3 separate regions of the Homo sapiens genome follow, and regions 2 and 3 are each linked to region 1. The links come from fine-mapping of genetic effects on gene expression. A gene starts in region 1. Each other region holds a variant in brackets. All regions are shown on one strand. Distances are between the middles of the regions.

Region 1 (5,634 bases):
CACAAATGCCTAGGCTCAAGTCATCCTCCCCATTCAGCCTTCCAAAGTGCTGGGATTACAGGCATGAGCCAGCGTGCCCAGTCTGAAAATTCATCAGTTGAATGGATGAATGCTTCTCTCAAAGTCATGCTTTTGTAGGTGCTGGTCTTTCTGCCTGGAACACCCTCCCCACTCATCTTATGAGTCTCAGCTCCGACAGCCTCTCTTCCAGGAAGACTTCCTGAAGCTCCCTCACCAAACATGCCGGGTCAGGTACCTCCTCTAAATTCCTACAGTCCCAGGGCTTCCCTCAGCCTGGCCCTGACCCCTCTTGCCCTGACCCCTCCCCATCCCACCCTGACCTTTCTCCCCGTGCTTCCCCATCTTGGCCCTGACCACTCTGGGCTGGGACTGTGTGGTGAGTCTGTTTCCCCACTGGCCTAGGTGCGCTGGGGAAGCAGCACCGGTGCTGTCTTAGTTACTACTGAGTTCCTGGCAGCACCCAGCATGGGCCTCCTGCTTTCTGTTGTAATACAGAGAACTGTTTCTATTATTCGAGGGCTTGCCCACCAATCCCCAGCACCTTGAAAGCGCTCCGGCATCTTTCTGAACCCTCAGGGCTTTACCTGGATCATTGATGGTTATCACTGATACTACAACCTGGTGATTAGTGAGTGCTCACTTTGCACAAGGCTCAGTCCTCACTCAATCACTCAATCCTACATGATGGGCACTGCTTTTTGTTTGTTTGTTTGAGATGGAGGCTCACTCTGTTGCCCAGACTGGAGTGCAGTGGCACAGTCTTGGTTCACTGCAACATCTGCCTCCCGGGTTCAAGCGATTCTCCTGCCTCAACCTCCCAAGTATCTGGGATTACAGGTACGCACCACCATGCCCAGCTAATTTTTATATTTTTAGTAGAGACAGGGTTTCACCATGTTGGCCAGGCTGGTCTCGAACTCCTGACCTCAAGTGATCCACCCACCTCCGCCTCCCAAAGTGTTGGGATTTCAGGCACTAGCCACTGCACCCGGCTGATGGGCACTGTTATCACTCCATTTGACAGATGAGGCAACAGAGGGACTAAGCCATGTGCAAAGGTCACACACCAGTAAGTGGTGGCAGGCTGTGAGCGGAGGGCCTAGCAGCCCTTGACTTACCATGGCCATCAAAAGTCCCTTCCAGCATCGCTACGGTTCCCCGGCCGCTGAACTCCTCAGCCTGACCTCCCAGGGCCTCCCGCACAGCCTCCTGCCCAACCAGGACCACCACAGGCCGCCAGGGTCCCAGGTAGATGGTGAACACCGGTCCGTACTTCTTACTCAGCTGGGGGTAGGGAGGAAGAAAGAGGAGGGTGCTGTGACCTCTTCGATCCAAGGTGTCTCCATCATGGCCCCTGTCACTTGAGGAGCCACCGGGTCTAGCTTCTACGCCCTCTACCAGGAACCTGCCCCCATCCCAGCAGAAATAGCTGAGGCTCAGTTCTCTTTTTGCACTAGGCTCCCGGGCCTCCTCCCCCAGTACATCCTTCAGTGGCATCCCCCAACTTCCTGTCGTTCCCTTGCTTCCTGCTGAACCCTAACCTCTGACGCTGGGCAATCCAGAAGCAGTTTGGGTCTCCCTTAATTCCTTAGGGCCCTCCCTGCCCCCCAAATATCCAGCCACCCCTTTCAGTCACCACAAAACCCTGAAATTCTGGAGCAGACACTGCTGAGTATCCGCCCCATCTCTCCCCCAAGACCCCACCCTTTTTTCTACGTCCTTGAAGTCACCCAGAATCCTTTTGAATGGGAAACTTCAGGCCTCTGCCCACTCCCACCTGCTATCCCCTAAGGCTGGGGCTGCCTCTGCCTTCTTTCTTGCTCTCCTTCCTCCCCAGTCCCAGGAACTCCCAACTGAGCTCCACCCATCCTCCCATCCTGCATTCTCTGCTGGCAGATTCCTTCAGCGGGACCCCCTCTCTGAGCCTGCAACCCTCCAGCCTCTTCTCTGCCTCCAACTCCCCGCAGGGACGCCTCCCCCTTTTCTTCTTTGTGCCCTCTTCAGCATGCCCCACCTGTATGGCTCCAGCTACCTCTCCCTCTGGGACAAGCCCAGCTGCATCAGCTTCTCCTCGGCTGGAGGACTCCTGTCTCTTTCAGCCTCGGTCCCTGCCCATCACCTTCCCAGGATTCTGTAGGCAGAGGTCTCTGCCCCTCCTAGCCCTGGTCCCCCACCCCACGATCCTCTCTCCCGGGCACCTCTCCCCTTCTCAGCCCTGGACAACCTGCTCCTGCCCCCAACCCCAGGACAGCAGCAGCCCCTTTGCCTTGGGACCCCTGCCCCTGCCTCCTCCCTAGGATACCCGAAAAGCCCCTCACCCTGGCACTCGGGTTTCTCTCCCAGGAATCCTCCCACCCCTAGCCAGGACGTCCCCAGAGCCCCTTACCCGCATGAGCCCTGAATACAGCGCCCCGGGCCGTAGCTGCAGGAGGTTTCCCAGCAGTGGTAGCGGCGTGGGCCCGGGGGGCAGGTGGCCTCGGGCCCTGGTCCCGGACAGCGCCAGCGTCAGCAGCAGGAGCAGCGCCAGCGCCAGCAGCAGCGCCCAGGTGCCGGTCGCCTCCATCTCGGCAGGTCGGCTCCTTCTCCTCTCCCAGGCGCTCCGCGCGGCTGGGCTAGTTAGGGGCGGGAGCCGGGCGTCTCCCTCCCCAACGAAGTCAGGCGCGGGGCGGGGCAGCTAGCCCAGCCCCCTGCCTCCTGGGCAGGCTTATCTCCCCGCCGCCGGGTTTCTCCCGGACCACCGCCGCCGCCTGATGTCGGGAACTCATGCTCCAACGGATGTCTCCGAGGTCACCCAGGTTTACGCGGGGCTTGGGCGGCGGAGACAGCGCCTTGGGCCCCCGGATAGGGAGTAAGCAAACAGAAGAACCTGGAAGTCAGAGACTTTGGCCGCCTGGAGGTTGCCACACCCCGCATCTGGCGGTGACCCCGCGCCACTCTCCCCAGCTCCTACCTCGCTCATTGTTCGGATGTGGGTTCCTGTGTGCGTGCGTGTATGGGGTGTCTTTGAGTCAATTTTCTCCAGCATCTTACATCTTCACGAACTGAGAGGAAGGACTTGACCTTTAAGGATAAACAATCTGAAGTCCAGGGAGATAAATCGGTTGGCCCCAGGTCAACTTGGCTGAGTGGCAGAGTTAATATTTTGACTTGGGCCAGTTAGAATGATTGAGTCATTCATTCATTCGTTTAGAGGCAGTTTGCAGAGCGGTTAGGACCGTGATGGCTGAAGCCAGACTGCTTGAATTCACAGCCTAATTCCTCTGTGCCTCTGTTAGCCTTGTAAAATGGGGCTAGTTTTCAGGATTAAATAGTACATCTGTGCACACCATTTAAAGCAGACGCAGGTGCACATGTAACAAGCACTAAATAGATGTTAGCTAATATTTCTGCAACTAACTGTTATTGAGGTCTTACTATAAACAAGACCTTGTTCTAGACCCGAGGGTGCAGCTATGAGCGATGGAGAGAAGGGCTCTGGCCTTCCTGAGCTCATATCCACATGCAGATGAAGATGAGATGAAAACAATTTCAGGAAGTGAGAAGGCCTGCCAGGGGAATGGGCTTCTTGAGAAGGAAGAATGTTAGAACCATTTGTGCATGAATTATTGTAGGTTTGGTTCACTGCTGTATCCCCAACATATAGTGCAGTGCCTGACACACAGTAGGCACTCAATAAATATTTGTTATATTTTCAAAGATTGAATGTAGGAGATAAGATTCATGAAGTCTGCAGGGGCCATCTTGCAAGGTCTTGGAAAAGACTGCATTTTATTTCTATTGCAAACGGAAGCTGTCTGGAGGGGTTTTCAGCAGGGCAGTTACTTTGTTTGCTTTGCATTTTGATTTCGTATTTTATTATAAAAATATTAAAATTTCAAACATACAGTGAACACCTGTATACCCATCAGATTCCACCATTTTATTATCCTTTCTTTGTTACCTATCTATTCTTTTTTTGTTTGAGATAGAGTCTCACTCTGTTGCCCAGAGTGGAGTGCAATAGCATACAGTCTTGGCTCATTGCAACCTCTGCCTCCCGGGTTCAAGCAATTCTCCTGCTTCAGCCTCTCAAGTAGCTGCGATTACAGGCGTGCACCACCATGCCTGGCTATTTTTTGTATTTTTAGTAGAGACGGGGTTTTTGCCATGTTGACCAGGCTGGTCTCAAACTCCTGACCTCAGGTGATCTTCTCACCTCAGCCTCCCAAAGTGCTGGGATTACAGGCATGAGCCACTGTGCCTGGCCCTTTTTTCATTACATATCTGTTCATTTTGCCTATCCATTGATTTTTTTTTAAGCATTTCAAAGTCAGTTGCAGATACCAGTACACTTCACTCCCAAATACATCAGCATGCATATCAGTAGCTAGAGCTCAGTATTTGTTTACAGATACTTTTTGTTCCTCAAGGTATCTTATATACAATGAAATACATAACTCTTAAGTGTATAATTAGATGAGCTTTGAGTTGCATATGCTGGAGTTTTAAAATATTAGATTCTTTGGGAGGCTGAGGCGGGCGGATCACGAGGTCAGGAGATCGAGACCATCCTGGCTAAAATGGTGAAACCCCGTCTCTACTAAAAATACAAAAAATTAGCCGGGCGTAGTGGCGGGCGCCTGTAGTCCCAGCTACTTGGGAGGCTGAGGCAGGAGAATGGCGTGAACCCGGGAGGCGGAGCTTGCAGTGAGCCGAGATCCCGCCACTGCACTCCAGCCTGGGCGACAGAGCGAGACTCCGTCTCAAAAAAAAAAAAAAAAAAAAAAAAATTAGATTCTTAGAATTTTCACAATCTTTTTTTGAGACAGGGTCTCGCTCTGTTGCCCAGGCTGGAGTGCAGTGGCACGATCTTGGCTCACTGCAATCTCTGCCTCCTGGGTTCATGTGATTCTCCTGCCTCAGCCTCCTGAGTAGCTGGGATTACAAGCGCCCACCACCACTCCCAGCTAACTTTTGTATTTTTAGTAGAGTTGGGGTTTCACCATGTTGGCCAGGCTGGTCTCGACCTCCTGACCTCAGGCAATTTACCCACCTCGGCCTCCCACAGTGCTGGGATTACAGGCATGAGCCACTGCCCCCGGCCTGCAATCTTGCAATTTGTATTCTAGTCCAGAGCCCTTTCTCTCAAGAGCATAGCCAGAGTGCTCCCTGGAGTCTGGGGAATCCTTGACTGTGGTCTTCTTTAGCATTGATTCTAGCCTCTAACATTCCAGGGGTGCCCTGAAGCCAAAGGAGGAGGGGTGGGGAGGCTCATACGCTCTTGCTATGAAGTAAATGCCAGTTCTCAGTTCCTCCTTTGCCTTGTTCTGGAAGGTTTCTAGGACGTTCCAAATCCAACCTTGAGCCTATCTGCTCCCTCTGTTCTACCCCTGGGAGAGCTAACAGACATCTCAAACTTCATGGATATAAAAGAATTCCCGATTCCCCCACCTCCTGCAAAGTGGGCTGTACCAGCTTCCCACCCCATCTGGGAATACTTTCTCTCACCTCCTTCCTTACCTCTGTAAAAGGTATCACCATCTTTTCACTTGCTGATGACAACAAAATATAGGAGAGGCCGGGCGCGGTGTCTCATGCCTGCAATCCCAGTACTTTGGGAGGCTGAGGTGGGCA
Region 2 (5,634 bases), 27 kb before region 1:
TTACAGGCGTGAGCCACCATGCCCGGCCTCTCTGTCCTGTCTATGTTCATCTTGGGTCACTGTGGCCTGTCCCTTCCAGTGTATGTCATTCTATCTCTCTCTGTCTCCCACTTTCTTTTTTTTTTTTTTTCTTTTGAGATGGAGTCTCGCCCTGTCGCCCAGGCTGGAGTGCAGTGGCGCAATCTCGGCTCACTGCAAGCTCCGCCTCTCGGGTTCCTGCCATTCTCCTGCCTCAGCCTCCCGAGTAGCTGGGACTACAGGCGCCCGCCACCACGCCCGGCTAATTTTTTGTATTTTTAGTAGAGATGGGGTTTCACCGTGTTAGCCAGGATGGTCTTGATCTCCTGACCTCGTGATCCGCCCGCCTCAGCCTCCCAAAGTGCTGGGATTACAGGCGTGAGCCACCACGCCCAGCCTCTGTCTCCTACTTTCTTCCTGCTCTCTCTTCTTTGGGTTCCATCTCCCCAGTGGGGACCGGGCTGGACATCCTCCCTTTGACTGAGGCCAGCAGGCTTGTTAGGGCAGGAGGTGGGCCGGTTGTGGAGGGAGGCGGAGGAGAGGAGGGCACGGTTGATTCCGGTGCCCTGCTTGGGTCAAGGGCTGACAAAGGGGCACCAGGCCCACACGCACTCGAGCCATGGAACAGCTCAGAGGAAACCCAGGACAAAGAATTCTATTCAGAGAGAGGCCGGGGTGAATGGAGGGAGAGAGAAGCAGAGAGACAGAGAGAGAGACACATACAAAGAGAGACAGAAAGACACACACACCAAGAGACAGAAAGAGACAGAAAAAGGCATACGGAGAGAAATAAGATAGGTAGAGACAGAGAGGCAGAGACAGACTCAGAGGGAGAAACGAGAGAGACAGACAGTGAGGGACAGAAGGACAGTCAGACACTCACGCAGAGGTAGCAATGTTCCCTTGCTCCTGACTTCAGCCCTGCCCGGCCCCCTATTCGGAGCTGACCCACATCCCCGGACTCACCTGGAACATGCAGGCTGCGCTGGGGGCCGTGACCTGGAGCCGTGGCCAGGGGGACAGCATCCTGGAGCCAGAGTAGGTCCACGGGCTCTGGGGGTCCCTGAGCTTGGCAGCTCAGGTTGAAGGGGGTGTTGGCGGCCACAGTCCTGTCTTCGGGCTCCTCCAGGAAGTAAGGCAAGCCTAGCGGGGTGGGCAGTGGTAGAGGCTGGGGTCCCTCTGAGGCCCCAAGATGCCTGACTCACCACTAGGATGCTGTAGGCTTTGGGCAGCAAACCCACCCTGCAGGGTCATTGACTTGCCTTATCTGATCCCCGAGGGCACCTGAGCCATACCCAACACACACGTGACCCCAATATCTGATTCCTCCCATGTCAGACCCCCCACGATAGCTGAGCTCCTCATGTCTCTCTTCCAGAATGTCTGACAGCTCATCCTCATCTCATTCTATGGATGAGAAAAAAGAGACCGCTGGGGTCGTGGGGACAGGGGTACGTTGCGTGCCTCTGACGCCTTATCTGAAGACCAGAATGGCCTCCTGTGACCTGATGGTGTCTGATGCCTAGGACATCCAACTACCCCCAAGAAGTCTTTTCACCCAGAACATATAATCCCCCAGCCTTGGCACCATAACTTATATGGACTCCCAGCTTCTTGACCACCCAAAACTCTGACATTCTTAGGCTGTATGACGCTAGGTTCATCCTGAATCCTCCAGCACCCTTTGACCTTGACCCCTCAGGATTCCTGACTTCCCACAACCTATGAGCGCCACATGTCCTCTGACCCCTCAGGACCCCTGACCCCAGAGCTCACCCTCCAGCCCAACATAGCCAGGCTGGGACACGAAGGTCTGATGTCCCAGAAACACCAAACACTGGTACTGTCCCGTGTCGGAAAGCTGCAGGGAGGTGATTCTGACAGGGCAAGAGGAGAGACAGAGAGGTTCAGGGTCAGAGCTGGACACTGGGAGGGGGTCTGTCAGAACGGAAAGAGGGTGTCCAGTCTGGAAGCTCATGACAACCACGAAGTATGTCCTATTATTAACTCATTTTGCAGAAGAGGAAAACGAAACCTAGAGGTTCCATCACATGCTCAAAGCCGCACGGCTGACAAGTGGTCAAACTGGGGTTCCCACCCAGGTGGGCTTTCTGCCCTCTGTGTGACGGAGGTGGGAGTGGGATTCGGGGATGTGGCCACACACCTGAGCTGGCTGACCACTATCCAGTCATCCTGTTCATCCTCACCCAGGGGCACCTGGGTCTGGGTGCTGTCCGCGAGCTCCAGGATCTGTCCATCCCGAAGCCAATGTACCTCGGGGGGCTCTCCCTGAACCTGGAGCTGACACCGAAGGGTGCCCGTGAGTCCCCGGGCACCTGTGATATTCCCTGGGTTGCCCACGAAGGGACTTTCTTCAGCCTGCGTGCCTGGAGGGGAGATGGGAAGAGTTAGCTTAGGAACCCCCCAGCTCCTTCCGGCCCTCAGTTCCACCCTGTCCTTGCCTGCCCACCGGCGGCCAGGACCCCGCCAGGCCCTTAGGCCGACATAGTTGCAGAGTGACCTCAGAGTGGGGTGGAGGGCGGAGGCTCTGAGAGGAGGACGGGAGCCCTCCCAAGGGACTGGGATCTAGCGTCCATCCCGTCGGGAAGGAGGCTCGGGATCTGGCAGCCTCCCACGCCCTGCACTGCCTGGCAGGGCCAGCCCCTGCCCCCTCCGTCCTCTCTTAGGTCTCTAGAGACTTAACAGGTCGCGCTGGTGCTGGTGGATGGAGGGGAAGAATCAGGGGTTGGGGGAGAGAGATAAGGGTGGTGGTGGGGGGAGATAAGGGTGGTGGCGGAGGGAGAAGCCAGAGAAAGGCAGGGGAGATGAGACAGAGAGGAGCACAGATACAAGGCAAGACAGAAAAAATGAAGAAACAGCCCTCAAGAGAGAAGAAAAGGTGGGGGCGGAGGGGGGATACAGTCACAGAGGGAGGCTGAGAAGAGAGAGAGAGACTCAGAGAGCAGGGAGAGATAAAGGCAGAGACTGTGAAAGAGAGAGAAACAGAGACCCACAGAGATAGCAGAGCTGGAGGCAGAGACAGAGAGACAAAGTGAGAGCCTCCTCCCCAGAGATGGAGTGGACTGGTGGGGTAGGGACAAGTGGCGGGTCAGGGGGGTGGTGTTGGCAGGGAGAAG[C/G]GTTTTCCCCCAGGGCTCCAGAGCCCTCCTCATCCCACTGCCTGACTCGGTGCCCCTTCGGAAAGATTTCTTCCTTCCTGGCGACCCTCAGCTCAGCCCCTCTCCCCATGGCCCCCTTCTCAGGTCCAGCCCCCACCCCTGCCCTCAGCTTCTCCTTGTCTGTCTGTCTCTCCGGGTCCTCTCTTCTGTCCCCCCTGCCCTTCAGTTCCTCTCTCAGTCTTTCTCTCCCTCTGCCGCACTTGGTGTCTCTGAGTCTGTGTCTCCCTCCCTTGAAGTCCCTTTTCTGTGGTCCCAAGGAAACTCCCTAAGCCAGCCCAGGCCCCCCACACCTGCCATCATCCCCCACCTCCTACCCCTGCCCCAGCCCCTCCGAGGGGATCCCTGCCCCAAGGAGCCCCCATCACTCACCCCTGGGGGCCATGCACGCCCAGCCGCACAGCGCCAAGCACCAGGCCAGCGGGACCCTGCCCATCCTGGGGCACCGCCACGCCATGGGTGCCAAACTTTCCTCAGAAGTTGTTGGGCTCCCAGCGGGGGAGGGGGCAGGGCCGGGCTGTCCCCGGCCCTCCCCCCAGCTCCAGGCTCCCCGGATTTGGCACTGCCTGCCTGGCACAGCGGCAGGGGAGGCCCTTGCCACCGGCTCTGCCCAGCAGCCGCCTTCTCAGCACCCCTGCCTCCTTCCCTCACTCCCAGACTTGGGCAACCCTTTCTCCGCCCCTGGCTCCCCCTTTGCCTCCGCCCACCAGGGCCAGAGCCCAGGGGCCACCTGGACAATCAGGGGTTAACTCAAGAGAGGAGAGGATCAGCTCTTTCTTAAAGGGGCCAGGGAGGGAGCTGAGGAGGGGGAAGGGGACCCTGGTGGCTGTGCCCCCTGTCCTGAGCCAGTGAGGCCGTGTCTCTCTATCCGGGCTCTGGGCGCTGTCCCTCTGGGCTCTGTGTCTGGTAAACATTCCTCCAGAACTCCACTCCCCTCTCAGCTCAGGCCGTGACGCCCCTCTCCCCGCCTCCACCCCCAGCCCAGCCCCAGCCAGGCCTCCTTGGCCCTTCATTCCCCCTCACTCTCTCGGCTCCTCGGACAAGGACACACACACACACACACACACGCACGCACGCACGCACGCACACACACTCTTAGACGTCACTGACACACACAGGCTAGGACAAGCAGAGACACGCAGAGGGACCCAGACGGGCAGGGGCATGCTACTGGCCCACAGACACACTCAGACAAGCCAGGCCAGGAGCTCGATTCCTGGAGAAACCTCAGAGACAGGAGGACACGGCTGGGTGGGCATCCATGGGGGACACTTACTTGGGGAGACACAGATCTTCAGACACGCCAAAACCTGCATGGACGCCTAAATGGGACACCAAATACAGGCGACATGAAGGGGACCCAAGTTGGAATCCCAGTGCTACCACTAACTGTGGGCTACAGGCAAGTGACTGGCCTCCTGAGCCTCAGTTTGTCCATCTGTAAAATGGGAATAAGAATAGTTGTTGGCCGGGCACAGTAACTCACTCCTGTAATCCCAGCACTTTGGGAGGCCAAGGTGGGAGGATCGCTTGAGCCCAGGAGTTCGAGACCAGACTGGTCAATGCACTGAGACCCCCATCTCTACAAGAAGTTTAAAAATTAAAACTTAACCAGGTATCATGGCGTGTGCCTGTGGTCCCAGCTACTAGGGAGGCTGGAGTGAGAGGAACGCTTGAGTCCAAGAGATCGAGGCTGCAGTGAGCCCTGATCATTCCACTGCTCTCTCCTTCTGGTGGGACTGTGTGTCCTGGTTATTGCAGATCTGCTGCCTGCGTATCGGCTCTGCTGCACTTCCATTCCTCGGCCCTGTGTGTTTGGCACGTGGAGGGCTCTGCATGCCTGGATGTCTGTGAGGAGGAGGCTGGGCGTCTATCCCTCTGCTCTTGGCCACCTGTGTTTGGGTACTGGTATACCTACGGTGCATCATAAAGTCCTATCTGTTTGGCCTCCTGATGTCTCTTCTACCTGCCCCTTCCCAGCACCCCCGTCTGATCCTGCCTTCTCCTGCCTCTACTGTCACTCCTTTCTCCCATTTAGCAACCAGAGGACTGTTTCTGAAAGTCAAATCCTACCCTGTCCCTTCTCTGCTTGCCCATGGCCTCCTGCTGCCCTCAGGGCAAGCTCCCAGCTCCTTGTCACTGGCCACTTAGGGCCCTTCACCGTTGTCTCCCTGGGCTGTGTCTTTTTTTTTTTTTTTTTTTTTGAGACCCAGTCTTGCTTTGTTGCCCAGGCTGGAGTGCAATGGCTCGATCTCGGCTCACTGCAACCTCCATCTCCTGGGTTCAAGTGATCCTCCCACCTCAGCTTCCTGAGTTGCTGGGATTACAGGTGTGCACCACCATGCCAGGTTAATTTTTGTATTTTTGGTAGAGACGGGGTTTCACCATGTTGGCCAGGCTGGTCTGGAACTCCTGAACTCGTGATCTGCCCGCCTCGGCCTCC
Region 3 (5,634 bases), 49 kb before region 1:
ACAGAGCGAGACTCTGTCTCAAAAAAAAAAAGAAAAAAAAAGAAAAAAGAAACCCGTGTCCTTGGGTTGCTCTGAGGGTTAAACGAGGAGATACATGTAGAATGCTTAGAACAGAGCCTGCCACATAGGTAGTGCTAGGGTTGCCTGTGATTTTTATCACATCATCACCATCTAATCTCAACATTATTTCATCATCATCATCATTTTCTTCTTGTCATTATCTTCATCATTATCATCATCATTACATCTTCTAAGATCCAATGGCTCTGAGGTTTGGTGTTTCTTTTCTTTCTTTTATTTTTTTTTCTTTTTTGAGACAGGGTCTTGCTCTGTCACCCAGGCTGGAGTGCAGTGGTGTGATCACGGCTTACTGCAGCCTTGACCTCCCTGGGCTCAGGTGATCCTCCTACCTCAGCCTCCCGAGTAGCAGGGAGTACAGGGGCACACCACCATACCTGGCTAATTTTTTTTTTTTGTAGAGACAGGGTTTCACCATGCTGCCCAGGCTGTTCTCGAACTCCTGGGCTCAAGTGATCCTCCCACCTCGGCCCCCCGAAGCGCTAGGATTACAGGCATGAGCCACCACACCCAGCCTTGGTGTTTCTAAGATTTACTGTGTCTAAGATTCTATTCCTTGAAAGTTCTTTGTGGTTCCACAAATCTGTTATTTCTAGGGTCTGTGGTTCTGACATTCTAGTATCCCAAGGCCTTTAGAAACTTTTGGCTCACACATGTACAGAAGCCCAGCAGGCCAGATTCTCTACAGCCTTTAGATCCAGGCCAGGGCAGTGGGGCATAGGGTTCACTTACAGGTAGCTTCAGTGGTCCGACGACTGTAGGACTTGCGCACGCGGTACCTGACTACCAGTTCACCTCTTTCCACTGTTGGTTCAAACACTTCTCTGGGGGGGAGGGGGAGTAGGTGAGGGCAGGGAAAAACCATGTGGAACCCCCTACTCAACCAGCAGTTGAGCAAGCACCATCTCAGCCTCAAGCCCTGCCTGCCCTCTGTGCTAACATTTGCTGAGCATGCCTTGGGCAGCTACCTTCTGCCTTCCATTCATTCCACACACCCCCTTGCCCTCATTCTTTTTTTTGAAAACAGGATCTCACTCTGTCACCCAGGCTGGAGTGCAGTGATGCGATCTCAGCTCACTGTAGCCTCCATCTCCCGGGTTCAAGTGATTATCGTGCCTCAGCCTCCCAAGTAGCTGGGACCACAGGCGTGTGCCTACACTTCCCGCTAATTTTTGCATTTTTCAGTAGAGACAGGGTTTCGCCATGTTGGCCAGGCTGGTCTCAAACTCCTGACCTCAAGTGATCCACCTGCTTCAGCCTCCCAAAGTGCTGGGATTACAGGCGTGAGCCACCACGCCTGGCTTCCCTTGCCCTCATTCTGATTCTTAGTCATCACTCCTCCTGCACCAGCCTCCTCACTGGCCTCCCTGCCTCCAGCCTCTCCATCCCAGGCCACACAGCCTCCCCATGTGGTTCCAACTCACCCATAACGGGTCTCCTTCTTTCGCCGGTGGACAAGGAAGAGAGCCAAGATGAGGACACAGGCAGCGGCCACGACTGCTCCTAGCAGTACATACCACCAGGGCCACGAGAAGGCAGGAGTTGAAGGTTCCTTCACTATCAGGGGGTATGAGGAACAGGTCATGGATGAAGCCTTGGATCCAGCTCTCTGGGACCCAAAGGGGTGATGTGGGAGGGAGGCAGAAGGCCTCGGCAAAGATGTGCACATACTTGATGAGGTGTGTGATGGATGCATTCACATATCTGAATGGGCTGGGCTGGACAGGGCATGCAATGGATGTGATACAAGTGCAGGTTAAAGCAGAAGTGTGTGAAAGTTGTAGGATGGGTGAGTTAAGAGTGGGATGGAGGCCAGGTGTGGTGGCTCATGCCTGTTATCCCAGCACTTTGGGAGGCCAAGGCGGGTGGGTTACTTGAGGCAAGGAGTTCAAGACCAGCCCGGCCGACATGATGAAACCCTGTCTCTACTTAAACAAAATATATACAAAAATTAGCTGGGGTGGTGGTGCACACCTGCAATCCCAGCTACTCGGGAGCTGAGGCAGGAGAATTGCTTGAACCTGGGAGGTGGAGGTTTCAGTGAGCCGAGACTGGGCCACTGCACTCCATCCTGGGTGACAGAGCAAGACTCCATCTCAAAAAAAAAAAAAAAAAAAAAAAAAAGAGAGTGCCAGGATAGTTCAGGTGGTAGAGCATCAGACTTTTAACCTGAGGGTTCAGGGTTCAAGTCTCTGTTTGGGCGTTTGCAGTTTTCCTTACTTTAAGCTACCAAATATTATGCCACCAAGATCC[A/G]AAAAAACAGAAGAGTGGAATGGATATTTGAGGAGTGTGCAGTGAGTGTGGAATGGGAGGGAGAGATGTGTGGAACGCGTTATGAGTGTGCCAAGAGGGCTAGATGAACATGAGATGGGTGTGGAGAAATCTCAAGCAGCATAGGTTAGTGTGAGAAATGTGATGATTGTGCAAGAAGGGTGGACTAGAGTGTAGATAAGCAGGTGAGTGGGGAAGAAGATCCTTGCAGTGTAGGATGGTGCATGAAGCGTGTGCAAGGAGGGCGGACTAAGGAACATCTTTTGAAGAGAATGCAATGACTACAAAAGGGTTTTCTTTGTCTCTTTTTTTGTTTGTTTGTTTTTTGAGACAGGGTCTCACTCTTTCACCCAGGCTGGAGTGCAGTGGCCCGGTCTCAGCTCATTGCAACCTCTGCCTCCCAGTTTCAAGCAAATCTCCTGCCTCAGCTTCTAAGTAGCTGGGATTACAGGTGTGCACCACCATGCCCAGCTAATTTTTGTATTCTTTTTTTGGTAGAGACAGGGTTTCACCATGTCTCCTGAGTAGCTGGGACTGCAGGTCTGTGCCACCTGGCTAATTTTTTTTTCTTTTCTTTTTCTTTTCTTTCTTTTTTTCTTTCTTTCTTTCTTTTTTTTTTTTTTTTGAGACAGAGTCTTGCTGTGTTGCCCAGGCTGGAGTATAGTGGCATGATCTTGGCTCACTGTAACCTCCGCCTCCCAGGTTCAAGCAATTCTTGTGCCTCAGCCTCCCGAGCAGCTGGGATTACAGGCTCGCACCACCAGGCCCAGCTAATTTTTGTATTTTTAGTAGAGATGGGTTTTCGCCAATGTTGGCCAGGCTGGTCTTGAACTCCTGACCTCAGGTGATCCACCTGTCTCAGGCCTCCCAAAGTACTGGGATTACAGGCGTGAGCCATTGCACCCGGCCACAATGGTTTCCATAAAGCCAGGAATGAGGGTGAAATAAATATCCAAAGGGGCATGGTAAGCATATACAGGGTTGGATGGCTGCTGGAAAAGTTGGGGGTGTGTGAAGTGGGAAGAGTATTCGTGAAGTCTTAGATACAAGGAGTGAGCAAGGAATTTTAAGGATGTAATTGCAGTGTGAGAGAAGTGTGCAGTGAGCATGCAAAAGATGTTAGAAGGGCAGATGAGAAGTATGGGGTGCACAGAAAGGGGGTGTAAAAAGGGCAGGGGTGGAATGGAGTGTGTAAGAAATAAAGATCATTATGTGCTGAGTATGCAAGGGGTTCAGGGTGAGTGTGCAGAGTGAGATGGGTTGGGATTAGTGAAGGGTGAGGGAATGATGTCTATGGAGTGTGCAGTAAGCATGCAAGGAGAATCGGGTGTGGGAAAGTTGTGGACAATGTTTTTCAGTGTTTGCAATGTGGAAGGTATGGTAAGTGCATACAAGGTGTGCAGAGTTTGTGAATGAGAAGTGTGTTGTGCAATGGGCCTTTGGGGTCATGTGGGAGGAACGGATTATAATGGGATATATGTGAAAGGAGGGTGGAATAAGCGTGGAAAGCGTATGTGAAGAAATGTAGGAAGGGATGTGAGGAGTATTGAAGGCTAGTGGGTTGAGTTACAAGAGTGAACCATAATAGTGCCCAGAGGGGACAATGGGTGTAGGAGGAATGTTTGAGAATTGTTAGAGAAATATTTGAGAGGGATGGATGTGAGGAGGATACCTCATTCATCCATCCATCCACCTTTCTACCCATCCATTCATCCACTCACAAATCCATCCATCTGTCCATCCATCCATTTATCCAACCATCCATTCATCCATCCATCCATCCATCCATCCACCCATCTACCCATCCATATATCCACTCACCACCCAGTCATCTTTTGTTCATCCACCTATCCACCCATCTATTAATCCATTGACCCACCCACCCATCCACCCTCCATATATCCAACCATCCATCCATCCACCCTCCATATATCCACCCACCCATCCATCCACCCATCCATCTACCCATCCATTTATCCACTCACCATCCAGTCATTTATCTGTTCACCCACCTATCCACCCTCTATTCATCCATTGGCCCACACACCCATCCATTCTCCATATATCCACCCATCCATCCATCCACCCATCCATCTACCCATCCATTTATCCACTCGACATCCAGTCATTTATCTGTTCACCCGCCTATCCATCCTCTATTCATCCATTGACCCACCCACCCATCCACCCTCCATATATCTATCCATCCATCCATCCATCTATTTGTTCATCCATCCACCCACTCATCTGTCATTGCCTGAATACCTACAATGTGCTATGCTAGGCCATTATAGGCACCTCCATCAAGGACCACACAAACTCAAGAAGTAGGTTAGAGTGATGAGTTAGAGAAACATGAAAGGGATGTGCAATGAGTATGCATGGTGACAGTGCCCCCACTAGGTGTTGAGGGTAGGGAAGGAGGAGATGGGGTGTGGAAGCCCTTACCCAGCTGGTGGACTGGCTGTGCTTGCCCTGTGAGAAGAAAGGACAGAGAGGAGATGTGCTCAGAGAGGACAAGACTGGCGTGGCACGGGTAAGGGAGTAAGGGTGTGGCACGGGTAAGGGAGTGAGGGTGTGGCACGAGTAAGGGAGTGAAGGTTTGGCACGGGTAAGGGAGTGAGGGTGTGGCACGGGTAAGGGAGTGAGGGTGTGGCACGGGTAAAGGAGTGAGGCCGTGGCACAGGTAAGGGAGTGAGGGGTTGGCATGGGTAAGGGAGTGAGGGCAGCTCTCAGTAAGGCTCAGGGTAGGAACAGGGCCTAAGTTGCGGTAACACTGAAAGGTACAAGGAGTAAGTCAGGGCTGTCAGGGAGAGACAGGGTTGAAGCAGGTTGGGCATGGCTTTGGACTTACCTGGGCGCCAGGCCTCCAGGGGTACTGGGAGGCTCCAGGGTCCATCCCCAGCAGCAGTGTAGGCTGCCACACACACTGTCAGATTGGACACAGACCCGTCCCCCTGCAGCTCCAGGGTCACCTCTTGCCTTAGCCCTATGTCCATTAGCACCTAGGAGGTCCAGAAGTGGCATCAGGGTAGAACCTTACCCCCCAGCTGTTAAGCCTTCACTCTCGGGCTCAATGCCCCATCTCTTTCTCAAAACGCTCTCCCCATCCTCCAACTCCTCATCCTTCCTCGTCCTCCCCTTCATCTCTCATCCTCATCCTTTAACCTGTATCCCTCCATCCCCTTCTAGCTTCCCTTTCCATCCTCCCTCCCTATGTCAGGGTATTGCTAGCCCTGATAGGAGTGCCTTTGTGAAAATCAGGAAAAGGTACCCCTTCCCCAA

The links. PIP is the estimated chance that this variant, and not a neighbour inherited with it, causes the effect. A credible set is the group of variants that fine-mapping cannot tell apart.
Region 2: its variant is the best candidate, but not a certain one, in a credible set for the expression of CYP2S1 in whole blood (INTERVAL, PIP 0.89).
Region 3: its variant is the best candidate, but not a certain one, in a credible set for the expression of CYP2S1 in blood mononuclear cells (TOPMed, PIP 0.80).

What each region holds. Positions count from the first base shown.
Region 1 is chr19:41,190,215-41,195,848 of GRCh38, reverse strand. CYP2S1 (cytochrome P450 family 2 subfamily S member 1) reads right to left here and starts at 2,630. Exons shown (of 9, transcript NM_030622.8): 1 at 2,408-2,630; 2 at 1,140-1,305. The coding sequence starts at 2,584. It overlaps LOC124904790, which reads left to right and starts at 2,797. Exons shown (of 3, transcript XM_047439802.1): 1 at 2,797-2,869. The coding sequence starts at 2,797. It also overlaps the pseudogene RN7SL718P. RefSeq lists enhancers at 781-1,293, 2,604-3,104 and a silencer at 2,602-2,691.
Region 2 is chr19:41,217,407-41,223,040 of GRCh38, reverse strand. AXL (AXL receptor tyrosine kinase) reads right to left here and starts at 3,818. Exons shown (of 20, transcript NM_021913.5): 1 at 3,564-3,818; 2 at 2,183-2,405; 3 at 1,795-1,895; 4 at 985-1,161. The coding sequence starts at 3,648. RefSeq lists enhancers at 665-1,602, 3,853-4,677 and a silencer at 4,105-4,244. The variant C/G (reference allele first, on the strand shown) is at 3,156.
Region 3 is chr19:41,238,884-41,244,517 of GRCh38, reverse strand. It overlaps AXL (AXL receptor tyrosine kinase), which reads right to left. Exons shown (of 20, transcript NM_021913.5): 9 at 5,204-5,354; 10 at 4,798-4,824; 11 at 1,503-1,635; 12 at 811-902. It also overlaps the pseudogene TRK-TTT10-1. Among named protein-coding and RNA genes, the nearest start is that of AXL, 22 kb to the right of the region's middle. The variant A/G (reference allele first, on the strand shown) is at 2,332.